4 linked regions of the Homo sapiens genome follow. The protein of the gene in region 3 interacts with the protein of the main gene of each other region in a pairwise test. Each region holds a gene or a part of one and is shown on either strand. Other genes may lie near its edges.

The links.
Region 1: the proteins of RNF32 (region 3) and BLMH interact in a two-hybrid assay, tested with the Homo sapiens proteins (one study listed by BioGRID and IntAct).
Region 2: the proteins of RNF32 (region 3) and LOXL4 interact in a two-hybrid assay, tested with the Homo sapiens proteins (one study listed by BioGRID).
Region 4: the proteins of RNF32 (region 3) and EXOC6 interact in a two-hybrid assay, tested with the Homo sapiens proteins (one study listed by BioGRID).

What each region holds. Positions count from the first base shown.
Region 1 is NC_000017.11:30,267,619-30,275,605, reverse strand, and holds part of BLMH (bleomycin hydrolase), read left to right. Parts: intron 1-1,408; coding exon 1,409-1,564; intron 1,565-2,706; coding exon 2,707-2,865; intron 2,866-2,977; coding exon 2,978-3,045; intron 3,046-4,217; coding exon 4,218-4,335; intron 4,336-7,987. UniProt on the Homo sapiens protein: The normal physiological role of BLM hydrolase is unknown, but it catalyzes the inactivation of the antitumor drug BLM (a glycopeptide) by hydrolyzing the carboxamide bond of its B-aminoalaninamide moiety thus protecting normal and malignant cells from BLM toxicity.
Region 2 is NC_000010.11:98,250,656-98,258,642, forward strand, and holds part of LOXL4 (lysyl oxidase homolog 4 precursor), read right to left. Parts: intron 7,513-7,987; coding exon of another isoform or gene 7,510-7,512; coding exon 7,326-7,509; intron 7,150-7,325; coding exon 6,995-7,149; intron 6,293-6,994; coding exon 6,125-6,292; intron 5,085-6,124; coding exon 4,922-5,084; intron 3,142-4,921; coding exon 2,898-3,141; intron 1,814-2,897; coding exon 1,698-1,813; intron 1,048-1,697; coding exon 911-1,047; intron 522-910; coding exon 410-521; intron 1-409. UniProt on the Homo sapiens protein: Catalyzes the oxidative deamination of lysine and hydroxylysine residues in collagen and elastin, resulting in the formation of covalent cross-linkages, and the stabilization of collagen and elastin fibers.
Region 3 is NC_000007.14:156,671,525-156,678,368, reverse strand, and holds the end of RNF32 (RING finger protein 32), read right to left. Parts: intron 2,674-6,844; coding exon 2,506-2,673; intron 2,075-2,505; coding exon of another isoform or gene 1,994-2,074; exon of another isoform or gene 1,951-1,993; coding exon 1,714-1,950; 3' UTR 1,239-1,713; downstream 1-1,238. UniProt on the Homo sapiens protein: May play a role in sperm formation.
Region 4 is NC_000010.11:92,914,084-92,922,070, reverse strand, and holds part of EXOC6 (exocyst complex component 6), read right to left. Parts: intron 6,314-7,987; coding exon 6,158-6,313; intron 2,090-6,157; coding exon 2,021-2,089; intron 1-2,020. UniProt on the Homo sapiens protein: Component of the exocyst complex involved in the docking of exocytic vesicles with fusion sites on the plasma membrane.

The sequences.
Region 1 (7,987 bases), on a different chromosome or scaffold from region 3:
CAAGGGATTCTCCTGCCTCAGCCTCCCGAGTAGCTGGGATTATAGGTACATACCACCATGCCCAGCTAGTTTTTTTGTTTTGTTTTGTTTTGTTTTCTTTTGTATCTTTAGTAAAGACAGGGTTTCACCATGTTGGCCAGGCTGGTCTCAAACTCCTGACCTCATGATCCACCTGCCTCAGCCTCCCAAAGTGCTGGGATTACAGGCGTGAGCCACTGTGCCCAGCCTTGTTTTTGCATTTCTATAAAATGAAAATAATATAAAGTATATCCTTGGATCGTAATGATGTTAACTTGAAGGTGTTGTGACATCATTAGAAAATATGTTGTCTCACAACCCAAAAAATTATACCTTATTACTAAAAGTCACTCCTCTTCTTTTTATTTTTGAGACAGGGTCCTCACTCTGTCACTCAGGCTGGAGTGCAGTGGTGTGATCTCAACTCACTGCAACCTCTGCCTCCTGGGCTCAAGTGGTCACCCCACCTCAGCCTCCTGAGTAGCTGTGACCACAGGCACAGGCCACCACGCCTGGCTAGTTTTTGTACTTTTTTTTTTTTTTTTTTTAAACCATGACTCAGCCCTCAGGAGATCCTGAGAACATGTGCCCCTAATTTTTGTATTTTTTGAGATAGGGTCTTGCTCTGTCACCCAGGCTGGAGTGTAGTGGCACGATCATGGCTCACTGAAGCTTCTGCCTCCTGGGCTCAAGCGATCCTCCCTCCTCAGCCTCTTGAGCACCTGGGACTACAGGCATGAGCCACCACGTCCAGCTAATTTTTTTCTTTTTTAAGATGAGGTTTCACTATGTTATCCAGGCTGGTCTTGAACTCCTGGGTTCAAGGGATCCTCCAACCTCAGCTTCCCAAAGTACTGGGATTACAGGCATGAACCACTGCACCTGGCCCTCCTCTTCTAGTAATACTTTTAACAGGCATTGTCATCCAACTCCAGCTGAAAAATTAGTTACTTTCCTATGACTAGAGACCCCTGTTGTAATAAGGAAAACATCAATGTATAAAGGGAAGGAAATCCATTTATAAAATTTGTCATTTTTTGGTTACTTGAAAAATAATCAGAGCAGCAACTCAGATCTTGCTGGGTATCAATGGTAGACAGATTCTTGGCTAAGGAAGTTTAAATTTTCAGGACAAGTACTAAGCACTAAATGTTAACATTTCAGAATCGCATTGTTCACAGTGTTTATTTGAGAACTCATAAGTTGACTGATAACAAATCTCAGACATCGGCTTTCCAGTTTTTGACGCAGTATTAGATTTCTTGTGAAATTTTTAGCTTGAATTTAGCCACTAACTTCTTGTGTTTCCTAAGCTTAAGGAAAATGAAGAGGTGAAAAAAATAACATTTCCCCCTAACCATTGCTCGCCTTTCCTCCTCCTCTCTTCCAGATATTCCGAGTGGTGTGCATCTGTTTGGGTAATCCACCAGAGACATTCACCTGGGAATATCGAGACAAAGATAAAAATTATCAGAAAATTGGCCCCATAACACCCTTGGAGTTTTACAGGGAACATGTCAAGCCACTCTTCAATATGGAAGATAAGGTTGGTGAATGGCACTGGTAGTCACTGGCTGTTTACTTTCAAATGGCTGTTAACCACAGGGAATTGTATAAGATTCTTGGTTAGCATGTATGAGTATCAAACTAGACAGCAAACAAACATTTTTCCCCACTTCCTCTGAAGTATTTTATGCAGCTAATGAAGTTGGTGGTGCCAGGATTTATCAGCTTTTCCACAATGTTCCTCTTCAGAGACTTTTTAAACTGTAAGCCAGCAGTCATTTTAATTCCCACATGCGCCCCTGTATAGGACCAGAATCATTCTCAAGTGCAAAACAATGAAAGTGTGTTGGGTATTTCTTATCGTGGATTCAGAGCACTTTTGCACTGAGGTCCCCTCGGGGAACTCTCCTGTTGAAGGGAGTAATCTTAGTTTTTCCTGTTCCCTTTAGGTCTTCCTCATCTGCCTAGTAGGAGGATCAGAGCCTCTTCCTTTTATTGGCTTCTTGATCCTCTTCCAAGCAGATGCCTGTCTTGTAACTTGAGAACAGGGGCCTTGTGATTAGCTCTCCAATTTTTCTTACTCAGTGCATGTTATTTTTCAGAATGAGTTTTGAGGGCCGGGTGCGGTGGCTCATGCCTGTAATCCCAGCACACTGGGAGGCTGTGGTGAGTGGATCACCTGAGTTCGGGAGTTCGAGACCAGCCTGGCCAACATGGTGAAACTCCGTCTCTACTAAAAATACAAAAATTAGCCAGGCATGGTGGCGCACATCTGTAATCCCAGCTACTTGGGAGGCTGAAGCAGGAGAATCACTTGAACCTGGGAGGCGGAGGTTGCAGTGAGCCGAGATGGCGCCATTGCACTCCAGCCTGGGCGACAGAGTGAGATTCTGTCTCAAAAAAAAAAAAAAAAAAATTGCTTTTGGAGCAGTTCTTGCTAGTAGGAAAAACAGGTAGATGCACCTCCTAATTGTGTCTCTTACGCGAATTAGAATAAGCAAGGACCTCTCTCACATGTATTTTGCCACCTTGTGTTTCTTTGTTACTTAACAATGTGGCTGTAGTACTTAGCTTGTAGGCAGAGATGATGAGCTTGATGGAAACATGAACCTAGAGGAGAGCTGTGTGTTGCTTGACATTCCTGGTTTTGTGCCCTAATTAATGTGTTCTTGATCTTGATAGATTTGTTTAGTGAATGACCCTAGGCCCCAGCACAAGTACAACAAACTTTACACAGTGGAATACTTAAGCAATATGGTTGGAGGGAGAAAAACTCTATACAACAACCAGCCCATTGACTTCCTGAAAAAGATGGTTGCTGCCTCCATCAAAGATGGAGAGGTTGGTATTGTTTCTGTATTTTGCACATTGGGGTTAAAACATCTTTTACTTCTTTGGTATAATAGGAAGATGGGGTTTATGTTGACTTTCTTCCTCTTTCTTCTGTTTCTAGGCTGTGTGGTTTGGCTGTGATGTTGGAAAACACTTCAATAGCAAGCTGGGCCTCAGTGACATGAATCTGTGAGTGCAGGAAATTTAAAATGGAAAGTCATTTGTGGGTTGTTGCTGTTGGAGTGTGCTGTTGGTACAAAATGACTCTGCCGAGGTTCATCCAAAGATGAAGGTTGACCTAAGGGCGCGTCTCTTTCTTTGCATCCTTTAGAGTTTGAGGACTCATAGCAGAAACTCCACATACTTAAACACTCTAACCCAGGACATCAAAATCCCACTTTCTATCTGAGTGGAAATCGTTGGGCGTTCCTAAAAAGCCATCCTCTATGAGAAAGACACTTTAAAAAAATAATTGACTATTGCGGAAATGTGTTCAGTGCATTTGGGAGTGTAATGAAAGATTTTCCAGAGCCCCCGTTTGCTATGTTACTTTGGTAACTTTGTATTTTGTCATTGTGACAAGTGGGACTAATTTGCATGCATACTTTATAGCATTCCTCCTGGTCATTTATGACAATGAAGGTTAATTTGTAAACTAAATCATATAGGATTCCTTGACTGTTCACCATTCTCTATTTTAGGGTTACTTATAAATAGTTGTTACTTGTAGGAAGTTGAGTAAATATCTTGATAGAGAAATCTGCTAAAAAAAAGAATTAATGAGGTTTAAAAAATTTTTGAAAACAGGTACATGCAACTCCCAAGTGTGTCTCTCACACTAACTAGAACATGCAAGGACCTCTCTCACATGTATTTTGCCTTTTGTTTCTTTGTATTTAACAATGTGAGTGTAGTGCTTATGCAAAAATATTCCCCAATATTTTGGACATTATTTATTTAAATTTTAATCAGCAGTGATTTAAATGAATTCAGAAACTGGTTGGTTCCACCAGCTCAAAAGAGATCAGTTTTCTAAGAAGTTACTTCAAACGCTTTTTTCATTATTTTTTAAAGTTTTCTTGCCTAAATGACAATGTAAACTTGTCAGCTTCTGATGTGGAGAATTTATGTTTAATCATCTCCTTTTTTTCCTGCATACTCTTGTGACACATAGAGAATGGACTCCCACTGAGAGACTAAGTTCTGCATGTTCCATATTCTTTCTGAAGAGCTACAGCTAGAGCCTTATTTATTTGGAGCTGTTGAGCCCCTTCAGTTTCTTCTGAATTCCTTTTACAACCAAAAGCCAGTTTTCCCCATGATCGTACTCCCTTTATTTTGTACTATCATTCTTTTTACAGCTATGACCATGAGTTAGTGTTTGGTGTCTCCTTGAAGAACATGAATAAAGCGGAGAGGCTGACTTTTGGTGAGTCACTTATGACCCACGCCATGACCTTCACTGCTGTCTCAGAGAAGGTATGACCCTCAGCATGCCTGCTGGAGTGTTTGCACAGATGGATCTACATTCTCCTGTAGACTGTTTACCCAACAAAGCTTCATTCATAGTGTATATGATTTCTGTTAAAAGTTAGTTTCCAAGTAAGACATCGTACCTGCGTCACTTGGGGCTTGGCTGCGTGCTTAGAGGTAATATAAAAATAGGAACTTTCTATGAGGAGAATTTGGGTCAGCAGGGAGCGACCAAGTAACTGTTTCTGTAACTTTGGAAGGTCATGGTTTAAAGAGAAGTCAGCAAGGGAACTTGAGAGAAGATAACTTCTACTTTATAAGGAATCAAAATGTGCCCTGAAAGTGTTCATATCTTGATGACCTATGTTCAGATTTCCCTTCATTTGTCATTCAGATTCTTTTGCAGTAAAATGTCAATAACAGTAATTTGTGGACTCCATACCCATTTCTAGTTATATGCAGAGCTTCAGGAAATTGGATGTAAAGTATTTTGAATTTCCTGTGAAATAGTGTGTATAGTAATACCACTTTTTATAGGTTATAGAGTTGGAAACAACTGAAATTTTATCTTTCACAAATAAACTCCTCACTTCCAGTCAGTAAAAATAGATATTTTCACCTCTGTGCTCAGGATCATCAGGAAGGAAGAACTTGAACTACTTTAATTCTTTACCACCACAAGCAAAAATATTCTTTCTAGCCTAATTCCTGGAAAGTCACAGAATAACTACCTTATATAAATTGTTCTAGAAAATCATTTTTTTTTTTTTTTTTTGAGATGGAGTCTCACTCTGTCATCCAGGCAGGAGTGCTGTAGTGTGATCTCAGCTCACTGCAACCTCCACCTCTGGGGCTCAAAAGATTCTCCTGCCTCAGCCTTGCGAGTAGCTGGGATTACAAGTGCCCGCCAACACACCCAGCTGATTTTTTTGTATTTTTAGTAGAAGTGGGGTTTTGCCATGTTGGCCAGGCTGGTCTCGAACTCCTGACCTCAGGTGATCTGCCCGCCTCAGCTTCCCAAAGTGCTGGGATTACAGGCATGAGCCACCGCACCCAGCTAGAAAATGGTTTGATAGAGAATTGTTTTTGCTATCCTATCCACTAGATTTATGATCTTTAAAATGTTTAGAAATATCTTAGCATATCATTATGCCACATTTTCCTAACTAGCCTATCTAAAAGTCCTGATTTGCTTTTTATACTCTATGCAGAATTGTGAGTGGGATGGGGTTTTCTTTCTGTACCTTTTTCTCACCTCTTCCAACTACTTCACTTGAAGGGTGCCCTTTCAACCCCACAGCATCTAAGATCCCTGTGCTCTCTCTGTATTCAAAACTTGGTCTTAAAGGTTTAATTACATTCCTGCAAATTATAAGGCTAGTGCTTTAAGTAGTAGAACTCTGAGGTATTCTCAGTTTTATATGAGATCAAACACAGTATGGTGTAAAGGTGCCCTGAACTTAAGAGGCAGTCTTAATGCTGATACTCCTGATCCTCATGTAGTTTTCATAAATAAATGTAAAGGTTGAGGTCTTGTAAACCAGCGAGCTGTTTTCCTCATTATTCCATTCGTCAGTAATCTCAGCTCTGTAGTTAGCGAGACTCCCACACCAAGAAACAGGTTTTTAGGGTTACCCAGGAGAATGTGTGGAGTATAATTTGCATTACTTATGTAGATCAAGAAAAGTCATTTTAAAACAGCAAAAGGTGATTTAAGTGTTATCACCCCAATTTAACAAAATTCTCACATTTGAATTATAAACAAAACATAAAGTTAGGTTATAAAAGGAATTTTAGACCGGGTGCAGTGACTCACACCTGAAATCCCAGCACTTTGGGAGGCTGAGGCGGGAGGATCACCTGAGGTCAGGAGTTCAGGACTAGCCTGACCGACATGGCGAGACCCTGTCTCCACTAAAAATACAAAAATTAGCTGGGCATGGTGGCGTGCACCTGTAATTCCAGCAGCTACTCTGGAGGCTGAGGCAGGAGAATCCTTTGAACCCGGGAAGCGGAGGTTGCAGTGAGACAAGATTGCACCACTGCACTCCAGCCTGGGTGACAGAGCAAGACTCTGTCTCAAAAAAAAAAAAAAACAATAAATAAATAAATAAAATACATGAAAAGGTTTTTCAAATAAGGGTGCTTTATAACTAAACTAAAGTTCTTTAAATAAATTTTTAAACTATATAGAGTTCTGTTTTGTGTTTTTTTGTTGTTGTTTTTTTGTTTTTTTTGAGACTGAGTCTTGCTCTGTCGCCCAGGCTGGAGTGCAGTGGCACAATCTCAGCTCACTGCAACCTCCACCTCCTGGGTTCAAGCTATTCTCCTGCCTCAGCCTCCTGAGTGCAGGCGTGCACCATCGGCCTGGCTAATTTTTTTTTTTTTTTTTTTGTATTTTTAGTAGAGATAGGGTTTCGCCATGTTGGCCAGGCTGGTCTTGAACTCCTGACCTCAAGCAATCCACCTGCTTCGGCCTCCCAAAGTGCTGGGATTACAGGCATGAGCCACTGTGCCCAGCCGAGAATTTGTTTTGTTTGTTTGTTTGTTTTTAAAAAAACAAACAAACAAAAACTTGTAATTTCCAAGAAAAATTCAGCTTTTTATCATTTCTATCTCTGTTATAGAATACTCCTATTTTTCAGGAATAAAAATAATGAATACCACTGTCATTTTCTTGGGAACTTCCATTCTTTGATTAGCATGGGTTGTTTCCTTAGGAAAATGGAGCTACCTTACATGCTAATGGTATAAAGCAGAATTTATATTATTATACCTGGAATTTTATATTGAACATTTTCTCTTCATTCCACTAGAGTTTTTGATCCCAAAAACGAGTTTGAACTACACTTGAGTAATAGTACAGAGGTAAATGCATACTAGTGGTTATATTTCCACAATTTTCTTTCTTTTGTTGCTGATATCATGGAATCCCTATAAGGGAGTTCCAGGTATTAATCATTTTGTAATTGTAGATGACCCAGAGAACAATTTGATCTAGGTCACTCCAGGAATTCATTGGCCAAGGGGAAAACATAGGAAACATTTTCAGACTTAGAGTAACAAGTAACTATATCACTTTAGGTGACATCGATTCTAACAGTGATATTTAAAAGGAAAGTAAAGTTGGACTACAGTGGGAGGAATAGAAAACCAAAACAGACATATAATATGCCAGCTGCAGAATGTATAGTATATAACGATATGGTTTTAAAGGATTTGGGGGCAAAGAGTAAGGATTAGTACAGGTAAGGGTGTGTGAAACTTGTGAGTTTGTTGGCGCTATTTGTGAGACAGAAAATTACTGAGATCCAAGAAAACTGCCAAGAGTGGAGTGTTTGGGTTAGCAGAGCCAAAGAGAACCAAATCCCATATAGATGAGACTCATCATATAGTTATTTGCAAGTGGGAGTTGACAGATGAAATCATTAGGCGATAATACAGGGGTGAGTGCTCTTCTCATGCTACAAAGATTTAAGTTGCCTTGACATCAGTAAATGTCCTGGGTAAACATGAAAGAAAAAAGTCTTTTCCCAAATGGAGCCTTCCTCTTGTCCCTCTCTGTGTCACTATAGTAAAGGCTGTAAATGAAGGTTGTTGTGATGAGTATCACTGTCCCTTTAAGAAGACCAAAATTGAGCTTATTTTAATAATGAAG
Region 2 (7,987 bases), on a different chromosome or scaffold from region 3:
AGCTGGAGACAGCAACACAGAGCAAGAGGACTACTTTTGCCTGTGAGGACCCTAACCCTAACTTCTATATGAAAGAGAAAGGAAAAATAATGGACTTGAAAATCCTGACATGGCTTGAGGTGACAGGAAAGATTCTAGAACAGATTGGAAACTGAGTTTACAATCAAACAGCCTTAAGTGCAAACAGGGATGTAGAAGATGTAGTTATTGGGTGAAGCCGATGGTCTGACCAGTTCTAGAAGTCTGCCTTGTAAGATGTCAAAGGAAATGCATCTCTGTTCCATCCATAGCCTTTTGCACACCACACACATACAAGTCACACGCTGGAGTGTGGGAGCAGAGGGTACATTTACAGTGTTCCAGCTCCCTGAGCCTATAGATGGCTGATTCCACAGTGGCTCGGAGTTACCTGTGTGGCAGTTGTGCAGCCAGACCCGGTGCCCATCATACTTGCAGCGGCACTGCAGCATATTGTTGGAGAAATCTGACTCTGCCACTTCATAGTGGGGGTTCACAATCACCTAGAGTGAAAGAGGGGACAACTGAAAATGGGTGATTTGGTTTCTGAATGAGTTGACTGTGGCTGTGATAATCCTTACATGTGTTTCTATTTGCTTCATTAATTCTTAACAATTACCCAGGAGGTAGGTACTGATGTTCCCATTTTACAGATAGGGACTGAGAAGTCCCAACTGAGAAACTGATTTATCCAGTGTTCACTGAATCAATACTCAAACACAGGTTCATTGGACCCAGCTTGACTGTTACTTCCCTAACAGGACAGCTCCTTTAAGTGACAGGCCTGTCGGAAACCCTGTATGGGAAATTCTTCCCTTCATTTGCCCTCAGGGAAAGTTGTGGAACATCTGGAGGAAATCAGGCTCTGTGGGGAATCCCCCAGCCGCCTTACCTGGAAGATATAATTCCCGGGGCCCACATCTGTGATATCCACCCACTGGCAATCAATGTCATGCCGGTAGGTGTCCCAGCAGCCTACAGTCACTCCCTGTTCTCCAAAGTTGGCACATGCGTAGCGCCGCTGCAGTCCTGTAAGGAAGGGGACAGACAGGTTTTGAGGCAGGACGAAGCACTCTGCTAGGTCTTTTATTTCCTTTACCAGTTCAGTGTCATCATGCCCAGTTCACAGATTAAGGACCGTCAGAGCTAGAATCCTGCTGTGAATCCAGCACCATAGCAAACCACATTGTGACAAAGATAGGATTTGTTTGACTGCTCCAGTGCAAATCCCTGTTGAACTAGGAACTGTGGTTGGGAGATTCCAACGCTCCCGTGCTAATTTACTTGTGCATCCGCCTATCCATCCTTCCAAACCTCTAAAGATTCAGTGTTTACCATGCAGTTCCTAAGGGTTAGGGACTGTGGGTGTGCAGACAGGAAGCAGGCAATGCTTGCCCTCGGAGAGCTCAGCAGAGATAGGACAGGTCTGCAACTCTTCTCCAAGATGGAAAGTGCTGAGTGTTTTAAAAGAAGAACAATGCGTGGGGAATTCAGAGGAAGTAAAAACCTCCTGCGTAAGATTTCAGAAGGTAAGAAATTGCCTTGAATGCTAACTTTTCAAGCCAGGGTCTCCAGGTGCCCTGGGCTGCTGAACAGGGCAGAGAGAAAGCCTGATCCCAAAGGGGCTGAAGAACATAACAAAAGGAGATGCTGATAGGTGCTGACAGGAAACCACATACCTGTGGGGCAGTTTGTGTCCTCCAGACAGAAGCTGGCCTTGTGCCCCTCAGCCACCTTGGAGCCATTGAGAGTGAGGAGGTCGTAGTGGGTGAAGACCTCAATGCTGTGGTAATGCCTGCAGAAGGGGTAGAGCTGTCAGTGCGGCAGCAACAGGAGAGGGTCCTCTCTGGAGGGGCTGGTAGGGAAGACAGGCCCCAGGCCCCATCATGACCCGAGAGGAAAGTTATAGTAGGCAGTGCCCTTCTCCCTCCCAAACCCGAGATTAGTGTGACGCACAGCCTCCTTTGCTGGCACCCCTGCCAGGCAGCAAGTACAGCTGCCCCCACCACCTAGGGTCTCAACCCAGGCAAGAGGTAGAAGCCCTGCTCTGGTCGCCTCCAGGAGGCTGGTGCCTGACAGCAAGGCCTGAACTGGGGGGAGAGGCGGGGCACCGGGTCTGTGAGCAGCCTAGGAGCTGACCTGCTGGGAAGAGGGTCCCTGTAAGCCTGGGACCAAATTGCTACCATTGTTTCCAATCCAGTTATAATGACAGCTCTGTTCATGCTACAGGGAAAGGTGCTTATTATCTCAGGCGAGACCAAGTCCCAAAGTCATTGCCCATTCCTTTCCACTTTCTCCACCCGTGGCTATGTTCTGAAGAAGAAAAAACAATTCTGCCTTTGTCACAGGCATTGTCTCTCCCTCTCTCTGGTCTGGAAGCTCCTGATAGGAAAGAATGTTCATTGTCACTTTTTTAGTGGCAGTCTGTTCATGCTGTTCTTTGAGGGCCTTGCCTTACTACTGAAGGAATCAGCGAGCTTTTCCTGCAGAGCCAGCACCCTGGATGGGATGTCTATTTTGGGCCCCCAGGTTCCTGGGAGTCCCCACTTTACCTGGCTTCTGAAGACAAGGCCTATGATCCAACATAGGAAAAGTGTCAAATACCATTCTAACAGAACAACTCTGCTGGCGGTGACGCCTCTATGGGATGTTGCTGTGGGAAACAGACCCCACGGGCACCATTGACATAGTGAAGGCGAGAGCGATGGAGGGGCAGGTGGATGCCGCTGTCCTCACTGCCTCCTGCAGGCAAGGCCAGCAAGGAGAGCGCACACCCCTCCCAGGAAAACTTGCCTGTGGCCAGGGAAGGGCCAAACTGCTCCCTGGACCCTGCTTTTTGTTCCTAACCCTCTAGTGCCAATGCATGGGCAGGCTCTAACCTGTGGCACTGGTGCCAAACCCAGCTATCGCGTCCAGTCTTTGGACGAAAGTCAGTCCGGCCCAGATTGTAGATCTGTGTGGAGAAGCGCAATAGGCGGCGGTATCCGTAGGGCCAGTCCATGTGATCCGCAGACTTGGAGAGGCAGTTCTCCTCGTGGGCACAATACAGCTGGCTGAGCGGGCGGTCCTCCAAGTAGGCCGTCTCCTGCACTAGCTGGGCGTTCATCACCAGGTCTGGTGCACCTGGGGCGGCGGAGGGCATGGCAGTGACTCAAAGGGTGGAAAGGCAGCCAGTCTTAGTCTCCAGCACAGAGGGCAAGCTTGCCCCCAGATTAAACCCTCCGAGAGGACCCCACAAAAGAAGGGCAGTTTTAAGAGTCAGGAGATGGTGAGTTCTAATAACATTTAAAGGAAGTCTATCACCTTAACCTGGGAGGCAGCTACAGTGTCATGGTTAGGCTTGCTGGTTTTGGAGCCAGGCCACCTGGGTTCATTCTTGGCTTACTTTCTGACTGTATAATTCACTAGCTCTATAACTGCTTAACCATTTTGTCTCTCATTTTCATCATCTGTAAGATGAAGATAATGGTGATATTAATCTGATGACACCTGTAACATGTCTGGCCTAAGTAAACATGCAGTTGAAGCTAGTATTTATTTTGTAAAATGCTTTTAAGCCTGTAAAGTGCCTTTATGTAGCTTAGTTCATATAATCCTCTCAAAAAGCTCTGCTGATACCTAACCTGGATACTTTGCCTGTACTGTCACTAAAAATCACTATCACTAAAGTAGTCCTGGGCGGAAGTGAGGCCCTGCCACACCACTGACCACAGCATGCATGCCACCTGGGCAGGCCGGCCGCAGCTTGCCCCAGGCTGGAGCCATCTGCATCTGGCAGTTGGCCATGTAGGGTCCTGTGGTATATATTGGAGAGAGCCAGGAAGTGCCCACTGACAAACCTAGAGTTTCTTGGTGAAAGAAGGCGAGCTTTCAGAGAGAATGAGAAGAGAGAGTAAAGGAAAGAAAGCAATGTGAAAAGCCAGGGAGGAAAAACAGGTGGTTACAGAGACTGCAGATTGGCTGACTGTGCCAAGTTGTCGTGAAGGATCAAATGTGTTCAAGAAGAGCGCTCCCACTGTAGGCAGTGGAGCAGGGAGGGGTTCGAGGTTCCCAGGAAGGGGAGTCAAGTGAGGAGCAGGCTCCCCACGTGCTGGGAGGCCTTGGTGATGGGGAGGTCCACTCTCATGCCCCATCCCTGCAGGGGAGGGTCTGATGGATGGGCCCAGTGTTCTCCCCAGGGTGCCCTGGACAGAGAGGAAGCCAGGAGCTCACTGACAAAGATGAAGGATATCTTGGTGTCGAAATTTGGCCACGAACAAGGTCAAGTGGCCACTTGGGTTGATGCTATCTGTAACCTTTGGGCTGGATATAGTCCATCTTGGCACTGACCTGGCTGGGAGATGTCAGAGATGCTGCTGCCCTAAGAATCTGGGTTTGTGGGGCAGAGCAATGCCACAGATGGCCTTGTCCCAAAGTCTTTTTGGGTAAATCCCACAGCTCAGGAAGAGAACACACAGCTGGGCCTTGGCCCCGGGTGTGCTCATATTTGTATGTCCTCTACGACAGCTTTCAAACTGCTTTTCTGACTACAAACCACAGTAAGAAATACATTTTATGCTGTAACCCAGTATACACATAGTTCCAAGGAAAAACTGCCCTTGCTGTTTTCTGTCCTGTTTCATTGTTTGTAACTGTTGGTCATAACCCAAAGTTGAAAACCGCCGTTCCGTGTCCTTGTGCTTCCTCATGTTCTCAGTGTTCTTTCTCACAATAACTCCGTGAGGGGGCAGGGTATGGATCCTGATGGGATGGGTGATTTGGCCACACAGCTGGGAAATGGCAGAGCTGGTACTTTCATTCCCCCATGCTGCTGGCCATAGACCTGGGACCAGCATGCAGGGCCCTCCCTGAAGGGGAGCACAGGCCTACCTGTCCCCAGCCCTGTGAGCCCTCCGTCACTCACTGTCCATGCAGGAGACTCCAGCCAGGAAGCGCCCGCCACCGTGGGAGCAGTGCACCGGCCCGTGCCTCTGGCACTGCTGCAGGGCCAGCTCTGTGCCTGAGCAGCGCACCCCACTCATCACCACCTCCTGGGCCCTTGGCGTCCCCGACCAGAACCAGGTTTCCTAAGAAGACAGCCAGCGTCACCCAGTCAGCGTGCCTTTGGAGTCACCTCCTGACTCCCATCTGAGGTGTGGCCTCAGTCATACCACCCCCACCGGGTTGTGTCCAGCCTGGGCCTGAAAATCTTCAGTGATGAGAACCCGAATTCCCTGGGGCAGTCCATGACACATTTGGACCCTTCTGATGTTAGAAATCCCCACCACATATGGAGGTAAAAATCCACCCACCGTGGCTTCCACTACTGGCCCTACACCCCTCTCTCTTCCAGATGGCAGAGGAGGGTCCTGTTCCCCGCCCCTCTCCCTGGGGGCTGTGCTCACATTTCCCCAGCTGCTCCTCAAGCGGCCCAGATCGTCAGTTGTGCTCAGGGTTGCCCAGTCCACACTGTGCGGCAGCCAGTGTGGGTGCAAGTGCAGAGGTTTCTCTGTTGCGGTCATGCCTAAGTCCTCTTGATTTTATTTTTTGATGTATTTTAGATCTATCCACTTATTTCTCCTGGACTACCTGGTCCAGTCCAGCCTCATTTCTCACCTGGGCTACTACAATAGCCTCCTGAGTGTGTTTCCTTGCATTCATGTTAATCTCCACCCAACGTTTTCCAAACAGCAAAGGAAGAAATCTTTCAAACATGTGGATTGCAAGCTTTGAGTGATCTTGCCCCTGCCTCCTCTGCCCTCATGTTTGACAGCACTCTCGAGAGAGAGCCACACTACAATCCCTGGCCCTGATTTCCTCAGCTGAATCAAGCTTTCTCTGGCCACAGGGCTTTTGCATAAGCTATTCATTCCTCCTCCACCTTGTCTGACTAATTTCTATTCATCTTTCCTGCAGATGCAAATGTGTCCCTCATTGACGATTTCATTAGGACTATGTCTTCTTGTTTACCACACTGTTCCCAGCACTCAGCATCATGTCGGCTCATAGTTTCACTCAGTAATGAATTGCCAAATGGGCAAAGAGGCAGCAGCTTTAGCACAGGAAGTTTTGGGCCTCAGAACAGGAGGGTGAGAGGTCATACGGAAGAAACAACAGAGGGACCTACCTTGTAGGCATGGATGGCAAAACCCAGGCCGAGCTGTCGGCAGGCCACCATGGCTTCGGTGAGCCCCCAGTTTTCACTGCACACGCTCCCCCAGCGTGGGACCCCGTTCACCTCCACCTGCACCTCCAATAGCCCCTCCTCAGGGATACGCCCACCAGCCAAGCGCACCTGCAATGGCGAGGGGTGTGTGAGGAGTGGGGTAGCCTTGCAGGGAAGAGCTCAGGGCTGCGAGCCTGGAGGTCTGCCCAAGCCAGCTCACTGTGTCACCCTAGACAAGACAGTCCCCTTCTCTGCCTTGGTCTCCTTCTCTGTAAGGTGAGGACAGTGTAGCAGGTAGTCTCTAATGTCCCTGCCTGCTAGAGAAATCTGACTCAAAGTGCCTGGACCAGGGGCTCCTCCTGCTCTGGCACTTGCCCTCCACCATTAACGACAACTGGCAATTTGCAAAGGGCTTTCATGTCCCTTGCCTCATTCACAGTGACCCCCTGAGAGCGTGAACCCCATTTTACAGTGGCACCAGTGACTTGCTCACAGTCCATGTTAGCACTGACACTTTGCCCTGAGCATCCCACACAGACTCCCTCGTGCCGACAGCCCTGTGGCCCTCTTTCCCAGGCACCTTCTTTCTCAGCTTCACAGGGGACCCGAGACGGGTATGGGAGAGCACATCCATCTGCAGAGCCCCTGTGGCCTCTGACATTTCGGAGGGGCTGCAGCCAGGTCGGCTCTAAGGGAAGGCAGACTGGTGCCCAAAGCAGAAGCGCTAGCCGCTCCTCCTGGACCTCTCCCCGCTAGCTCGATGTGGTGTCCTGGGGACTCCCCAGGGTTTCCCGGCCCCCAGCCTGAGGCCATGCTCAGACCCAAACTCACCTGATTCTGAAAGCCCATGTTAGGGACATTGCACCTGACAGCAGCATCATTCTCATGTTGGCAACCATTCTGGGACCCTTCCAGGGCAGGGCAGTCGCTGAGGGTCCGCTCATATCCCCTGCAGCGCACCTCACTCAGGTGGATGGGCCCTAGCCCTAGATGGGGAGAGAGGTGCTGTGTGCGAGGCTCCATCTCCGTAACCCCACACTTGTGGCTTCCCCTTCACAGAGGGGGATAACTTTCTGTCCTGGCCCTGTCACCCCAGGGCCTTCAAGACATGGACCAGTGGCATATCCAGGCCTTCTAACCCCTCCCAGGCTGTCTCACTCACCTTGGCCCAGCCGGGCCCCAAAGAGGGCCTCCCGAGCAGAGCCAAAGCCCAGCTGACGACACACGACACTGGCAGAGATGAGGTTCCACCTGTGGTCACAGACCGTGCCCCACTGGCGGTTCATGAGCACTTCCACCCGGCCCTCGCCCACCTGGGCCCCGGAGCGCAGGCGCACCCTCGGCTCCTGCTGGGAGAAACCTGCTTCAGGGACGGCTGAGGAGGAGGCACCAGCAGGGGCTGAGCCCCCACAGCGGGATCCCCAACGGGGCTCCTTCAAGTTCCATGGCGGTGGCCAGAGCCAAGGATGGGGAGTTCCAGTCCTGCTTCTGACTTCCCATAGCTGTCACCCTGAATAAGCTGTTTTTCTTGATCTCCATTTCTTCAATGACCAATCACCCCCACAGCCTCATCAAGGATGCCGTCTCAAGTGTGGCGCTAAGGCATCTGTACCACCTCACAAGGCCATCTCAGTGTGGCACTAAGGTGTCTGTACCACCTCACGAGGCTATCTCAGTGTGGCACTAAGGTATCTGTACCACCTCACGAGGCCATCTCAGTGTGGCACTAAGGTGTCTGTACCACCTCACGAGGCCATCTCAGTGTGGCGCTGAGGCATCTGTACCACCTCACGGCATCTGTACCACCTCATGAGGGCATCTCAG
Region 3 (6,844 bases):
TTCTGTTAACTGTCACAGGCTGCCCTGGACCATTCCTCAGAACTCATGGGATTTTCGCGACCCTCATCCTCAGTGAAGTTAGATGACCATTCCTGCCTTTCATCCCACCGATTTTCCTAAGTATCTGTTGCCTGCAACTAACACTAGTTCCTGTGTCAGTAAAGTACTGCACTTGGTTGCAAAGAATAGAGATGGACTCTGCCAACATAGGCACGGAAGGTTTACGGGGTGGATGGCATGGCTCACAGATGTGATGAGAAAGCCCCGGAAGAAGTGTTGGGCACAGCCTTAGGCACAACCTTTCCTGGGCTCTTCCCATCACTGAATGATCCATGTATCTCCGGGACTCTCCTTCTAGATCCAAAGTTTAGGGCGGCGGAATCGGACTGCTCTGGCCTTTGACACGTGCCTGTGCTTTGCCTGTCAACGCTATGGGGAGAGAGATGTCAGCTTACAGAAAATTGAGGTTCTGTGATTCAGTTTCCCTCTGCTCTCTTAGAATAAAAGTGCTTACTCATTGTTTAAAGCATTCTCCAAATTAGTCTGCAAATTTTTTGATAGTATACATCCTTAAAAAATGAGCACATCCCAATATATGCATATTTATTCATAAATGATACATACATATGTAGCTATATAATGTGTACATCACAAAACATAGGAGAGTATTTTTTCTAAGGGATGAGATAAGAATAAATAGAAATTTTGGCATTTCTTCTCACATTAGATGCTGGGTTATTCTGAGCCCATGCCATGTGCACACCCACTTGGCCTCTTCCTCTTAGGCCTACACCCTGCCCTTTCCTTGCCCCTTGTAGTTACTGTGGCTGGAGTGATGAGCGCCACTCCCAAGCATGGCCTGGAACAATGTCCTCCTGCCCCTCCACCAGCAGTGACAGGATTCACTGGGGACTCGGGGGCAAAGGAGACTGTGTCACAAGACAAAAGGAGCCAGGGTCACACATGGTGTACCCTCGCCCTGCCTCACCCATGGCTGACATGGGTTGGACACCTCAGAAATCATGTGTCTTCAGCGAGCCACTGAGAGTTGGGGCTTTATCTGTTACTCGGCTAGGGGTAACCTAACCGATGAGACTGTAACTGGTTACTGTAAATAACCAAGCTCCCAGTAATAGTAAACCAGTGACAAAAACAATTCTTATCCAAAAAGGTTCACTTTTTTTTAAAATGTGTGAACTAAAACAGTCTTTATTGCTCTAAGACATTAAAATTTGCACTTTTTTGATGTTGAATACCACTGAATATTTTATTTTTATATTTTATTACACAGAAATACAGCAATTATTACAAAACGAGTATTAGGAATGGCAAAGGCTTTAGGACAGACTATTAGCGGAAAACATTTGGAACTTAAGGAGTGTTTTACATTTGGAACTTACTTTAAGGAGTGTCGTTCAGACACTAGCTATATCTTAACCTCAATTTTTAGAAGTAAGCAAGCTCTCATTTTTTGCTATTCATATTTGAAGTGATTAAACTCATAAATTTGAAATTTACTTTTTAGAGACCAAAGATTAAAATTAGGTGGGATGTCAGCTTTTAAAATATACTAAGATTTCCTACAACTACCAATAGCTTATTTCCCTGGGAAACAGATTACATTGTAGTACTTAACCCAGAACTCATGCAGTTCATCCAAAATGATGGTAAACTTTTTTCCTCAGAATTACCTAACTTTCCTTGACTATGAATTCAACATTCAAGAATCTTCTTCTGGTAGCAGGAGCGGCAGAGAGGACAGGCATGGAAAGGAGGCCTGTCTCCCACGGAGAACTCCTCTAGTGCCAGCAGACACGCATGGTGGAACACATGTGAGCAGGACAGGAGGGCCATCTCTCTGGAACGCCTGCCTGCACCCACGCGCTGACCGCCAGCAGCGGAGAGAGGGGCCAGGCAGATGGAGCACTCGTGGGTCTCCCGGCGCAGAGCCTGCGGCACACAGGACGGGAAGAGGCCACGCGGGTTAGTTTCATCACAGCAGAAAGTTACTTAAACTGAAATGCGAACCATGTGCCCCGAGACATGGGTCTTCGAAACATGCGGAAGTTTCATTCTGTGTTAAAATCACATGCATTTTATTTATATATATACATATATATATACACACACATATACTCTGTTACTCCTGGGAACTGTGGAAAGGGTTAGTAACCCACCTGTGATAAGCAACATCCAACAGGAACTTCCAGAATTTCAAACTGAAGGGACCTTTGCCGTCACCCTAAAGCCCATGAGGAAAGTCCTACCACAGGTGCAGGGGCAGCTAGGGCAGCGGTTACCCCGGGACTGACACTCCTAGGCTTCCCAAAGTGAGTCCTCGACCTCCCCCGACATGCCACCCCCACAGCCTCCACGGCTGCACCCCGGGCCTGACACTCCTAGGCTCCCCAAAGTGAGTCCTCGACCTCCCCCCACATGCCACTCCCCACAGCCTCTGCAGCTGCAGCTGAGTCTGCTGGTTGCCAGGCTGCCAGCCAAACCTACCTGCACTTGGATTTTCTCCCATTCCTCTTCTGTGATCTCATGGCCACATTTTTCTTCCAACTGCTGAAGAACACTTCGATTTATGGCCAAGCACTGATCGATTTCTGCAAAGAGCTCTTCAATGTTGGTGTTGTATGAGCACAGGATGCGGTGGCTGATTTCTGTGAACTGAGGAGGAGGCGGGGGCGGGTAAGCTCACACCTGAGCTCGGTGGAGGTTGCAGGGAAGCGCTCTCGAGCCTGACCATCTATTTTGGTAACCTTCCTCGTCTCTGTCTTCGAATAATACTTTTTAGGGAAATAGATATATGTCTATTTTACTTAACTATAAATCCAGATAATCTGGACAGATGACCACAAGAACCCCTATCTGATGGAGTCCAGAACACACTACCCCAAAATACGGCACCTTGGCATACTGAATATTTTAAGGAAAAAACATTCCTTCCCAAAGGAATTTGAGAAATGACAGCTGCAGGAGGGACCGTCTGACCTCTCCCCACCCCTAAAGTGGGTCACAGGACCCTCCTGTGAGAGGCACCCTCGTCTCCAAAGACGGAGGGAGCCGGGAGGAGACAGCACACAGGCCTTGCCGTGGTTCCCACCGACCACCCTCAGCTCACCCCTTGTCCTGTCATGCTTCCCCACGACCTCTGTGTCCTCATCCAACCTAGCATAGAAAGCGCTCAGGCGTTACTGTCTCTTCGGGTCTCCGCTGCCCCTTCGGGTCGCCGCTGCCTCTTCGGGTCTGCACTATCTCTTCCGGTCTGCGCTGCCTTAGGAAGGCTTCCATACCACATGGGACTTACTAAGTAAATCCGTGTAATTTTCTCGTTAAGCTTAACTTACAGGGCTCCAGCTGAAGAATTTAGGAGGGTAGGGGAAAAGGGTATATTGTTTCCCTCCCCTGCTGTTTTCTTGGTTGTGAGCTTTGACCATTAGCAGGAACACATTTGAAATTAAAAGTTGAGAGAAAAGTTCGAATTTCGCAGGATCAGCTCTGTCCCATAGAAACATACTGTGAGCTACGTATGTAATTTTAAAATTTCTGGCAGTCACATTAAGTTTTTTAAAAGGTGAAATTAATTTTAATATTGTATCTGACCCAACAGATCCAAAATATTATCACTTCAACGTTTATTAATTGAATACAGTACTTTGTTTTTTTTGGTATTTTTGTTTGGTTTGGTGGAGACAGCATCTCGCTCTGTCACCCAAACTGGAGTGCTTGGGGCCATCAATGCTCACTCAGCCTCGGCCTCCCGGGCTCAAGCCATCCTACACTAGAAAGGTCTGAGTCATTACAGAGTGGCCACCAGTGTCATCTGAGGCACGGGTAGGTGGCTCATTCAGGGCCACACCAGCGGCTCCTTTTTAGTACATGTGAAGAGTGTAAAGCAAAGGAGAATAAGGTGTGTAAAAGGTTGTGCCAATGGTGACTGTCAGCCACACTTCCTGCCCTCTTGCTTGTCCTTTCAAGTACAGAGCTGTGGCTCACCCAGAGATGACATTTCCCATTCCCCCATGCCCAGGTGGGGCCACGTGAAGTAGTTCTTCCAGATGGACGTGGCTCATGTCTCTTCTGGGTGTTCTCCAGGCCCGGGGGGTGGCAGATAAAGGGCAGAGGGAGACAGTTCCCGAGCCCCACAGGCTGGCATGTTGCCTGCAAGCCAGGACACCTGAACTGTCCTATGAGACCGAAGCTCTGGCTTTCAGTCACTGAAATTCGGGGGGTTATTTGTCCAGCAGTGAGAAGTGCCGATTCAGCAGTTACATCTGCTTCATGGAATCCGGCTTGAAGCACAAAGAAGGATGAAATGAACAAGTCCCGTGGAGATCTCACACATTTAGATATGTGATGGGGAAAATGCATTTTGGATGGTCCATGACTGTCCAGGTTTCAAATATTCTAGTCTACTGGAGTCCTCACGTTCACTTTTTCTTTTTTTTTTTTTTTTATTAATGTGGAGCAACCTGGCAGAACGTAGTGTGTATTTAAATCACCAGACTTCTGAAGGTGCCTTTGAGGACATGGAGTTCTCTTCCAATTCTCTCCCTTCTGCAAAAAGATCGTGAGACAGCGCAGGGTCGAGTGCTGTGGAGACTATGAGCTGCCTTTCTCCCTGGGATGTTAGAAGAATGAGTATTGGCTTTAAGGATGAGAGGTCCTTTTGAGTAAAGAACATTCTGTGAACACAGCAGGCAGTCCACAAGGGTTGGGGTTTGAATGAAGGGGGTGGCTGAGGATCTTCCAGGCACCTGTGTTTTGGGATTAGCCGTACTTGGAAGCCTGGTGGAAGCTGCTTTTCTATTTATGAGTCAAATTCTCTTTCACTCTGAATGTAATTATAATTGCCAAGCAGCTGTATCTTAATTTAGGGTCTTGAATCGGTAACGTTTCCTAAGGCTTTAATTTTAATTTTCTTTATTCCTTGGCCTTTCAAATATCTAATAATATCTAAATAAATTATTGAAAGTAGAAGAGTTCTCTATACATTGTAAAAGGAAAAATTACTTGGAAATATACACAGTTACCTCCAATTGATGCTTTGTAATTCAGGTTTTCTGTAAATTGTTTTTAAGTGTGAGATACTTTCCACATATGCCTGAAAAGCAAGATCTTTTCTTCCTTCAAAATTATACCTCAGAAAAAGGGTCACATTCTAGTCCAGACCTTGCAAAGTGTTTCAACTTGTGAGGTATGTTCTGAGATTAGTTTTGGACATAAAAGTACTATTTGGAATGACTGATCAATTGAATGAAATGATCGATATGATCTGGGTGTTTATTCTCAAGGTGGGGCCCAGACCCCGCAGCCTCAGCTCCTGGGAATCTGTGAGAAAAGCAGAGCTTTTCAGGCTTTGCCCCGGGCCTGCCGAGGCCACAGTCCGCGGGGTGAGCCCTGCGATATGCTTTACAGCCCTCCAGGTGATTCTGAGGCCCATTCAGGTTTAAGAACCACGGTCATAGAAGTTACCGATCACATTTTTAAATATGCAAAGTTATTTAACACAGCATTAGTTATCATTCCTGGAGGTGTCACCTCCCAACTCCAAGCATGGGTATCGCTGTGCGTGCGCTTTCAGAAGCCACTTGAGAGAGGAACAGAGTAAGTGTGCGGGCCACATATAAATATGTATGTACATCTATATGCATTTATGTTACAGTGTCACCTGTGTGTGCATATATTCTATCATACGTGAGTGTATCGCTCTCTCTACAGGATGCCTGGAGCAATCCCAGCTGTCCTGATGTTACATAAATGAGTTACTTAGCTCAAGATAAACTTCCAAAGACAGCATCATTAGGACTTTTTAAAGTACATTTTCCTTCAAACACTTTAGATGGAAATAGAGCTCATATGCTCTGAACAACTGTGTTGGGTGACTCCTAAGTGGCCCTATTGATGACAAAGACCCTGAGGTCCAATACTGATGTCACCTATTGCCTCCTTCTGCCTCAGTCACTGTGGCATACAGGTCCTATCTCCTTTATTAGTCCTGGGGCCAGGACTGTTCTTAACGCTGGTAATAGCATCCAGGGTTTTTAAAGGGTTTTGCACCTGTCGTCGTCACACCCTGCCTTTAAACCCTCTCAAGAGCTCAGTACACGCACCGACCATAGTAGGCACTTGTTGAAAGAAACAGACTTGTCAGTTTTGCATATATACCAAATAAATCTCAGGGAGGGTGGCCCTTAACACTTAGTGCTCCAGTCTTAATGGTAACTGGTGTAATATAGCAAGAAAGCAAATAAATGCTTAGGATATTTTAATATACATAAGAATCACAAACTAATTCCACACTCAGGTGTTTGATTCCACAGAAGAAAACCTAGCATGGCAGACGCAAATATTCCTTTCCACAAGTTTTGATGAAATATTCCATTCCACAAGTTTTGATATGTACTTTTGCTATTCAACTGAAATTTCTTCTCATTTCCATTATAATTTTGTCTTCGATTAATACGTTATTTAGAACCGTTTATTTTCAAACGTGAGATAGTTCTATTTTTTTAAAAAAAATTTATTTCTAGCCTCAGCTGCACCGTGGTCAGGGAACATACTCTACACGACTTAAGTTTCTTCAAGTACGTGGACATAAAGATGGTGACATGAGATACTAGGACGACTGGGGAGGGACACGGGCTGAAAAACTAACTGTTGGGGACTGTGCTCATGAGCTGGGCGACAGGACCGCCTGTACCGCAAACATCGGCGTCCTGCAGTACACCCAGTGACAAACCTGCACAGGCACCCCCGAATCTAGAAGCTGAACTTATAAAACATAAATGTCTCGACCTATGATGACATCTGCATCATGGACAAGCGTATGGTCAGT
Region 4 (7,987 bases), on a different chromosome or scaffold from region 3:
GGGAGGCTAAGGTAGTAGAATCGCTTGAACCCAGGAGGCGCAGGTTGTAGTGAGCCAAGATGGCACCACTGCATTCCAGCCTAGGCAACAGAGCAAGACTCTGTCTCAAAAAAAAAGAAAGAAATTAGCTTTACCAAATAATTTTTGGTTATATATACCAGCCAGAAGTTATTGTGCTAATGAAAGTTTATTAAATTTACAGCATAAAACAGTAAGACTATACTGTAAACTCTACCTCTACCAAAAATACAAAAATTAGCCAAGCATGGTGGCATGAGCCTGTAGTCCCAGGTACTTGGGAGGCTCAAGTGGGAGAATCGCTTGAGCCCAAAGAGGTCAAGGCTGCAGTGAGCTGTGATCACGCCACTGCACTCCATCTTGGGTGACAGAGCAAGACCCTATCTCAAAAAAAAAAAAAAAGAAAGAAAGAAAACAATAGCACAAAGAAAAGGGTATTAATCTAACTGAATTGTTTTAAAGTAAGATGTTAATTGCAATCCTCAGGGCTAATACTAAGAAAATAGGCTGGGCTAGGTGGCTCACACCTGTAACCCCAGCACTTTGGGAGGCCGAGACGGGTGGATCACCTAAAGTCAGGAGTTCGAGATCAGCCTGGCCAACAAGGTGAAACCCCATTTCTACTAAAAAAATACAAAAAATTAGCTGGCCATGGTGGCGGGTGCCTGTAAACCCAGCTACTTGGGAGGCTGAGGCAGGAGAATCACTTGAACCCAGGAGGCGGAGGTTGCAGTGATCTGAGATCATGCCATTGCACTCCATCCTGGGCAACAAGAGCAAAACTCCAGCACAAAAAAAAAAAAAAAAGGAAATGACAAAGGAAATGAAATGGTACATAAGAAAATATCTATTTAATGCACAAGACAGTACTAATGGAGGAATAGAGGAACAAAAAAGATATAAGACATGTTAAAACAAATGGCAAACATCAGAGCAGACATAAATCCTACCTTACCAGTAATTACATTAAATGTAAATGAACTAAACACTCCAATTGAAAGGCAGAGATCAGCAGACTGGATTTAAAAAAACAGACTGAACTATGTGTTACCTACTGGAGACATACTTTAGATTCAAAGATACAAAGAGACTGAAAGTAAAAGGATGGGGAAAAACATGCTATGCCAATAGTGCTCAGAAGAAAGCTGGAGTGGCTATACTAATTAAAGCCAAACAGACCTTAAGACAAAAAATATTATGAAGAAAGATATTTTATGATTTTTTTAAAAAAGGTCAATCCATCAGGAAGACATAACAATTATAAACATATATTCACCTGCCAACAAGGCCCTAAAAATACATGAATAAAAAACTGGCAAAACTGAAAGAAAAAATGGACAATTCAACAGTTATAGTTGAAGACTCCAATACTTCTACTTTCAATAACAGAATAGGCAGAAGACCAACAAGGAAGTAAAAGACGTGAACAACCCTATAAACCAACTACATCTAACAAATATCTATAGAACACACCACCTAATAACAGCCAGATACACATTTTTGATGTTTTGGGGGTGGTTGGAGGGGTGGGTAATGGGTATTTCTGGAATTAGGTAGTGGTAATGGTTGCACATCCTTGTGAATATGCTAAAACCACCGAATTGTATACTCTAAAAGGGTAAGTTTTTTCGTATGTGAACTAGATCTCAATAAAGCAGTTATTTTTAAAAAGGAACATTAAATCAAAAATAAGAGCAATGTAGTATGGAATACACATGTAAAAGTAACTTATAAGAACTGTGATGTAACAACAGCACAAAGGCAATAGGGAGAAATGGAAGTATACTATTACAAGGTTCTTAAAATATACATGAAATGGTATATCACTTGAAATTACACTATGATAAGTAAACAAAAAATGTAAGTGCCTTACACAGAGTGGATATTTCACAAAGAATTATGTGAAGATTTACAGCATATGATCAATTTTTAGGGCCTAAAATACATACATGCCTTTTAAATAATATAAAGCTATATATACATAAATATAAAACATACTTACCAAAACAGAATAAATGTGCAAACATCGATAAACAGGGGAAAAATCAACAAGATCCTGAACAGTTAAGATCTGAAAATTAAACCATTTTTAAAAAAATTATAGGTCAAACTATTAGACCACCATTAGATAATGTAAAGTTAAAGATAGGCAAGAAGATTCATGAACTTTGTGTTACAACATTTATTCAATTCCCCCATAGAAAGCATACACTATAAACGCAAAACCTTCTTTATTTTGTTTTGGCATTTCTTCAGCAGTTTATTCTTTGTAGTATGTTTATTATCACTGTGGACTGTTTTCAACTTAAGGTAACCAAGGAGAGAAATTGTATATTTTTAATATGTATGATAGATTACAGAAAACTGCTATGGATAACTAGATACCTTATTATTGTTTTGGGTAAAAATGATACACAGATTTCATGATTTGGCTATAGACAAAGTTCCTGTTCTTACGCAGCTATGTCATATGATTGGTCATTATTGCACTGAATTAAAGACACTATCAGTATTATTTTACAGACTGCTAAGAAAGAAAAAACACCACCACTTAAAACTATAACACCATCATCTTTAAGATGTATCCTATATTCTGAAATGTTATGTGGAAAAAAAAATGCCTTACAATTGATGAAATGTAGTACTATAAAGTTTCTCAAACTTGAGAAATACATAAACCCTTTTTAAAGGAACACATTTGTACTCATGTGAATCTCCAGAGTGAACTTAAATTATTTTTACTATAACATTGCTTATTAGGGAAAATGATAAAAACAAAATGTAGTGCAGTATAGTAGTAAAATAGATCTGAGAGAACAGGGAAACCACCAAGCTCCTCTAAATGTAAAGGTCTGGGGGTAAGGCATGATGGTGATGCTCCCAGCAGGAAAGATATACAGAACAGGAAGGGGAAAATTGAAGTAAGAAGACTAGATGGTCTATTTTCAACATTCTGAACCTCAAAGGAGAAAATAATACAGAGGTCCTCTGAATATTTAGAAAGAACAAAAAAGCAGAGGTCAAAAATATTTATTTAATTTAAAGGGACAAAAAACCTAATAATAATTTCAAGGGACTAATCAGGACATACTAATTCCACATTAGGAAGGCATTTAACTGTTTGAAGCTGTTCATTTGTCTGTATTCAGTACAATAGCAGACATTCACTACATACGCATATATATACATATATACACATATATACACACATACACATATGTGCATACATATTCACACAAATATATTACATATATACTACATATATATTTGTGTGACTATGTACATATGTATCACCTCATCCTCAGATATACAGCAGAAATGTACATAGTGGCTGGGTGTGGTGGCTCACGCCTACAATCCCAGCACTTTAGGAGGCCAAAGCAGAAGGACCACTTGAAGCCAGGAGTTCAAGACCAGCCTGGACAACACGGCAGTTCCCCATCTCTACAAAAAATATAAAAAAATTAGCTGGATATAGTATATACAGGCATGTGCCTGTAGTTCCAACTACTTGGGAGGCTGAAGCAGGAGGAGCATTTGAACATAAGAGTTTGAGGTTACAGTAAGCCATGATTATGCCAACTGCTCTCCAGCCTGGGTGACAGAGTAAGACCCTGTCTCAAAAAAAAAAAAAAAGAAATGCACATAGTAAACACTCAGCTGTTCACCCATTCACAAATGCAGTCATGAGCACATAGTCGTATGGTTCAACTAAAAATTCTTACTGCATCCCAATTATGTCCTTAGAAAAAGAATTTAAAATCTCATTGGCAAGGCAAAACTTATAAATTAATTGGGAATAACAAGGTTCCTATGATAGTAGCTAAATTTAAAAAAAAATTGAAAAGGACGATAAAAGGTAAGTTCAATAGAAGATTCTGTGGAGATAATTTTATTTATTTTTTTGAAATGGGCGTCTCACTCTGTCACCCAGGCTGGTATGTAGTGACATGATCACAGCTCACTGCATCCTCAACCTCCTCTGGCTCAGGTGATTCTCCCACCTCAGCCTCCCCAGTAGCTGGGAATACAGGCACTATGCCTGGCAATTTTTTTGTATTTTTTGTAGGAAAAGGGTTTCGCCATGTTGGCCAGGCAGGTCTCAAACTCCTGGCCCAAACAATCTGCCCCCCTCGGCCTCCCAAAGTGCTAGCATCACAGGCATGAGCCACGGCATCAAGCCCTGTAGAAAAAACTTTCGAAAGCAATAGGATGCCGGGCATGGTGGCTCACACCTGTAATCTCAGCACTTTGGAAGGCTGAGTGAGAGGATAATTTGAGGCTAAGATAATCTGAGTTCAAGACCAGCCTTGGTAACATAGTGAGACCTCTGTCTCTATAAGAAATTTTTTTTTTTTAATTAGCCAGGCATGGTGATAGTGTGCTTTTAGTCCTAGCTACTTGGGAGACTGAAGTGGGAAGAACACTTGGACCCAGAAGTTGCAGGCTGTAGTGAGCTATGACTGTACCACTGCACTCACGGGCAACACAGTGAGCCCTATCTCTAAAAAAAAAAAAAGAAAGAAAAAAAGAACGAGAGAATGAATTTGGATATAGAAGATGAAAGAAAGAAAATATTTAAGGATAATTTCAAGGTTTCTAGACTTACTAGAACTTTTTTTTTTTCCATTAAAAGACTAATCATAGTAGAGTTATTTTTGTAGTATTTCAGCACCAATTTTTTAAATAGGTAGACTATCCAGAATTAGGCCAAATGACAAGACATTACGAAATAAAAATCTGACAACAGGTAATTCAAATATAAGTAATCACTATAAAAATAATTAGATTTGGGCGCAGTGGCCCACACCTGTAATCCCAGCACTTTGGGAGGCCGAGGTGGACAGATCACCAGGCCAGGAGTTCAAGACCAGCCTGGCCAGCATGGTGAAACCCCGTCTCTAATAAAAATACAAAAATTAGCCAGCCGGGCATGGTGGCGCATGCCTGTAATCCAGCTACTTGGGAGGCTGAGGCAGGAGAATTGCTTGAACCCAGGAGGCAGAGGTTGCAGTGAGCCAAGATAGCGCCACTGCACTCCAGCCTGGGCGACACAGTGAGAACCCGTCTCAAAAAAAAAAAAAAGAAAGAAAAATTAGATTTACACTTTTTCTACAGATTCCACTACCAGAGATTTAGGAATATAATCTACAATCATGTTTATCTGTCAATTATCTAGCCCAACATTTCAGATGACTCCATTGTCCTAATAGCTCAATACAATCTGACTGACTTTGTCAACTTGAAATAAAAATATATACAGAAAAATTTCCTAGCAAAAAAATTTATTTGAGAATAAACAAAGAAATAGGATTAAAATCCAGGACATGCACAGACCAGGGTGGTCTCTGGCATGTCTGCAGAACAAAGGAGGTTAGGGTTTTACCGGGGAGACAGATTGTTATGCAAATTGTTTTGAAAGAAAGTTCACTGGTGAGTGTCACTAGTTGCTAGAAAGGACTTGTAATTTTGGAGTTATGGTTAGGCCCTTACAGTTTTGGATTGACCTTGTAAGATAGTTGTTTGTTTTTTTTCTTCTTTTTGAGACAAGGTCTCACTCTGTCTCCCAGGCTGGAGTACAGTGGCACAATGTCGGCTCACTACAACCTCCACCTCCTGGGTTCAAGCAATTCTCATGTCTCAGCTTCCCAAGTAGCTGGGACTAGAGGTGCCCACCACCATGCCCAGCTAATTTTTATATTTTTAGTAGAGACAGGGTTTCACCATGTTGGCCAGGCTGGTCTTAAACTCCTGCCTCAAGTGATCCACCCACCTCAACCTTGCAAAGTGCTGGGATTACCTGTGTGAGCCACTGTGCCTGGCCTGTTTTGAAACAGACAAGTGTTCACATGTAAGCGGCTAGCTGTCCTTGTAGGGCTGATGCAGTAAGCTATGGTTTCAAAAAATTTATTGTGATAGCTCCTGATACCAGGCTAATCGTCCATGACAGCCCTCCCTTCACGGCCTTCTCAGCCTCCATTTTGTCAAAGTTTGACACACTGACTCCATTTTGACTCTGACAACTTTTACAACATAAATTTATTTTGCATACAGGAAGACTAAATCACACAGATGTACATTACAATCCAAAAGAAAAAAAATTATCTAATAATAGAAAAGAAAGAAAGACACCTATCACCTCTTCTTCATTCTCATCCTCTTCTTCAAGTGAATGTTTCAATACAGTTTCATTCCTTTCCTCTGGAATTCTATCACGATTTATATACATATTTTTCCCAAATTTCATTTTATTTTGTTTCTGCAGAGAAACACTGAAGGTTTTCTGATGCTGTGCCTATTTTGAAGAGAGAGAAATTCAGATTATTTCAAAACTGATTATGGTCAAAATTGGTTCAAAAAATTTGTTCATAGTTTTTTTTTATCTTTTTAATGTCTGTAGGTATAGAATTTGTAGTGATGTCTCCTTTCTTATTCATGATTTTTGCCTTCTCATTTCCTTTTTTTAAAAAAAAAAAAAAAAAAAAAATCAGGGTCTCACTCTGTCATCCAGGCTGGAGTACAGTGGCACCATCACAGCTCACTGCAGCTTCAACCTCCCCAGGCTGCAGTGATCCTCCTACCTCAGCCTCCAGAGTAGCTGGGACTACAGGAATGCACCACCACACCCAGCTAATGTTTCTTTGTTTTTTTGTTTTTTTTGTTTTTGTATTTTTTTGTAAAATGGGGTTTTGCCATGTTGCCCAGGCTGGTCCCAAACTCCTGGCTCAAGCAATCCGCCTGCCCCAGCCTCCCAGAGTGCTAGGATTACAGGTGTGACCCACCGCACCCAGCTTCTCTTCCTTTTTAAACAGTCTTAAAATTATGTAGAACCATGTATTTCCTCAGTTGGCATATTGTGTGTTGGCAAGGGGGACTGGCCAACACTCTTTGGCCATACTCCCAACTTCCTGAATTAGCCATTAACCTCACAGAAGGAACTATAACATCAAGTTGCAAGCTTATTTTACTTCCCACTGAAAATGCCCACAGTTTGTGAAGACTAAGAATGTAGAAGCTGTTATCCCACAATTGATCATTGACAAAAAACAACATTTACACAGAATAAAAAGTTGAGAACCCTCATACTTTTAGGCATTTTAGTAATACTTCCCTATCAGAACTTCATTACCAGAAATAGAAAAAAATATAAACTTAATTCCAGGATTTTAATTTCCTTACACACTGCGAGACATTCTCTCTGTTTTGATGGGTCAGATTGTTGCTATTTTGTTCTGTTAGCACATAGAAAGGTCGTGCACTGGCTATTTTAGGTGAGTTCTCTCTAAGGCACATGTAACTGCCAATCAGCCCTTCTCTACACTTAGGTTATCAGACCATGCAAGTTGCAGTAATCTGGCTCCTCTCTTACCTAGACTTTGATCCTGGCTGCCCCCTAGAGGCTGGTACTGGAGAAAATTATTATCACTCCTGTGTATTCCCTTTCCCTCTGTGCCCAAACTAATTTTGTCAATGATTTTCTGTCCTCAGAGTATAAAATCATTTATTTAGAGTATTGTTTCCCAATTATGTTATGCACAAAACTAACAATTCACACAGTAAAAACAGATGTTCCTTGAAAAAAGGGTTCTAAGTTCAAATGAGTTATATAAATATTACATATTGTATCCTCCTCCTAGGAGATTTACAATTCATAAGTAAAGAAATCCGCTTAACTTTATTTAACTCAGGTTTCCAAAATTTATTTGACTATTTAGTCCTTTTGTTCTCCCTAGAGCAGTGGTCCCCAGGCTTTTTTTGCAGGTGGATGGTTTCAGATGAAACTGTTCCACCTCAGATGATCAGGCATTAGATTCTCATAAGGAGTGCACAACCTAGATGCCCCGCATGCACAGTTCACAATAGAGTTTGCGCTCCTATGAGAATCGAATGCCGCTGATCTGACAGGAGGCGGAGCTCAGGCAGTAATCCTCTTTAGCAAGCCACTCACCTCCTGCTGTGTGGCCTGGTT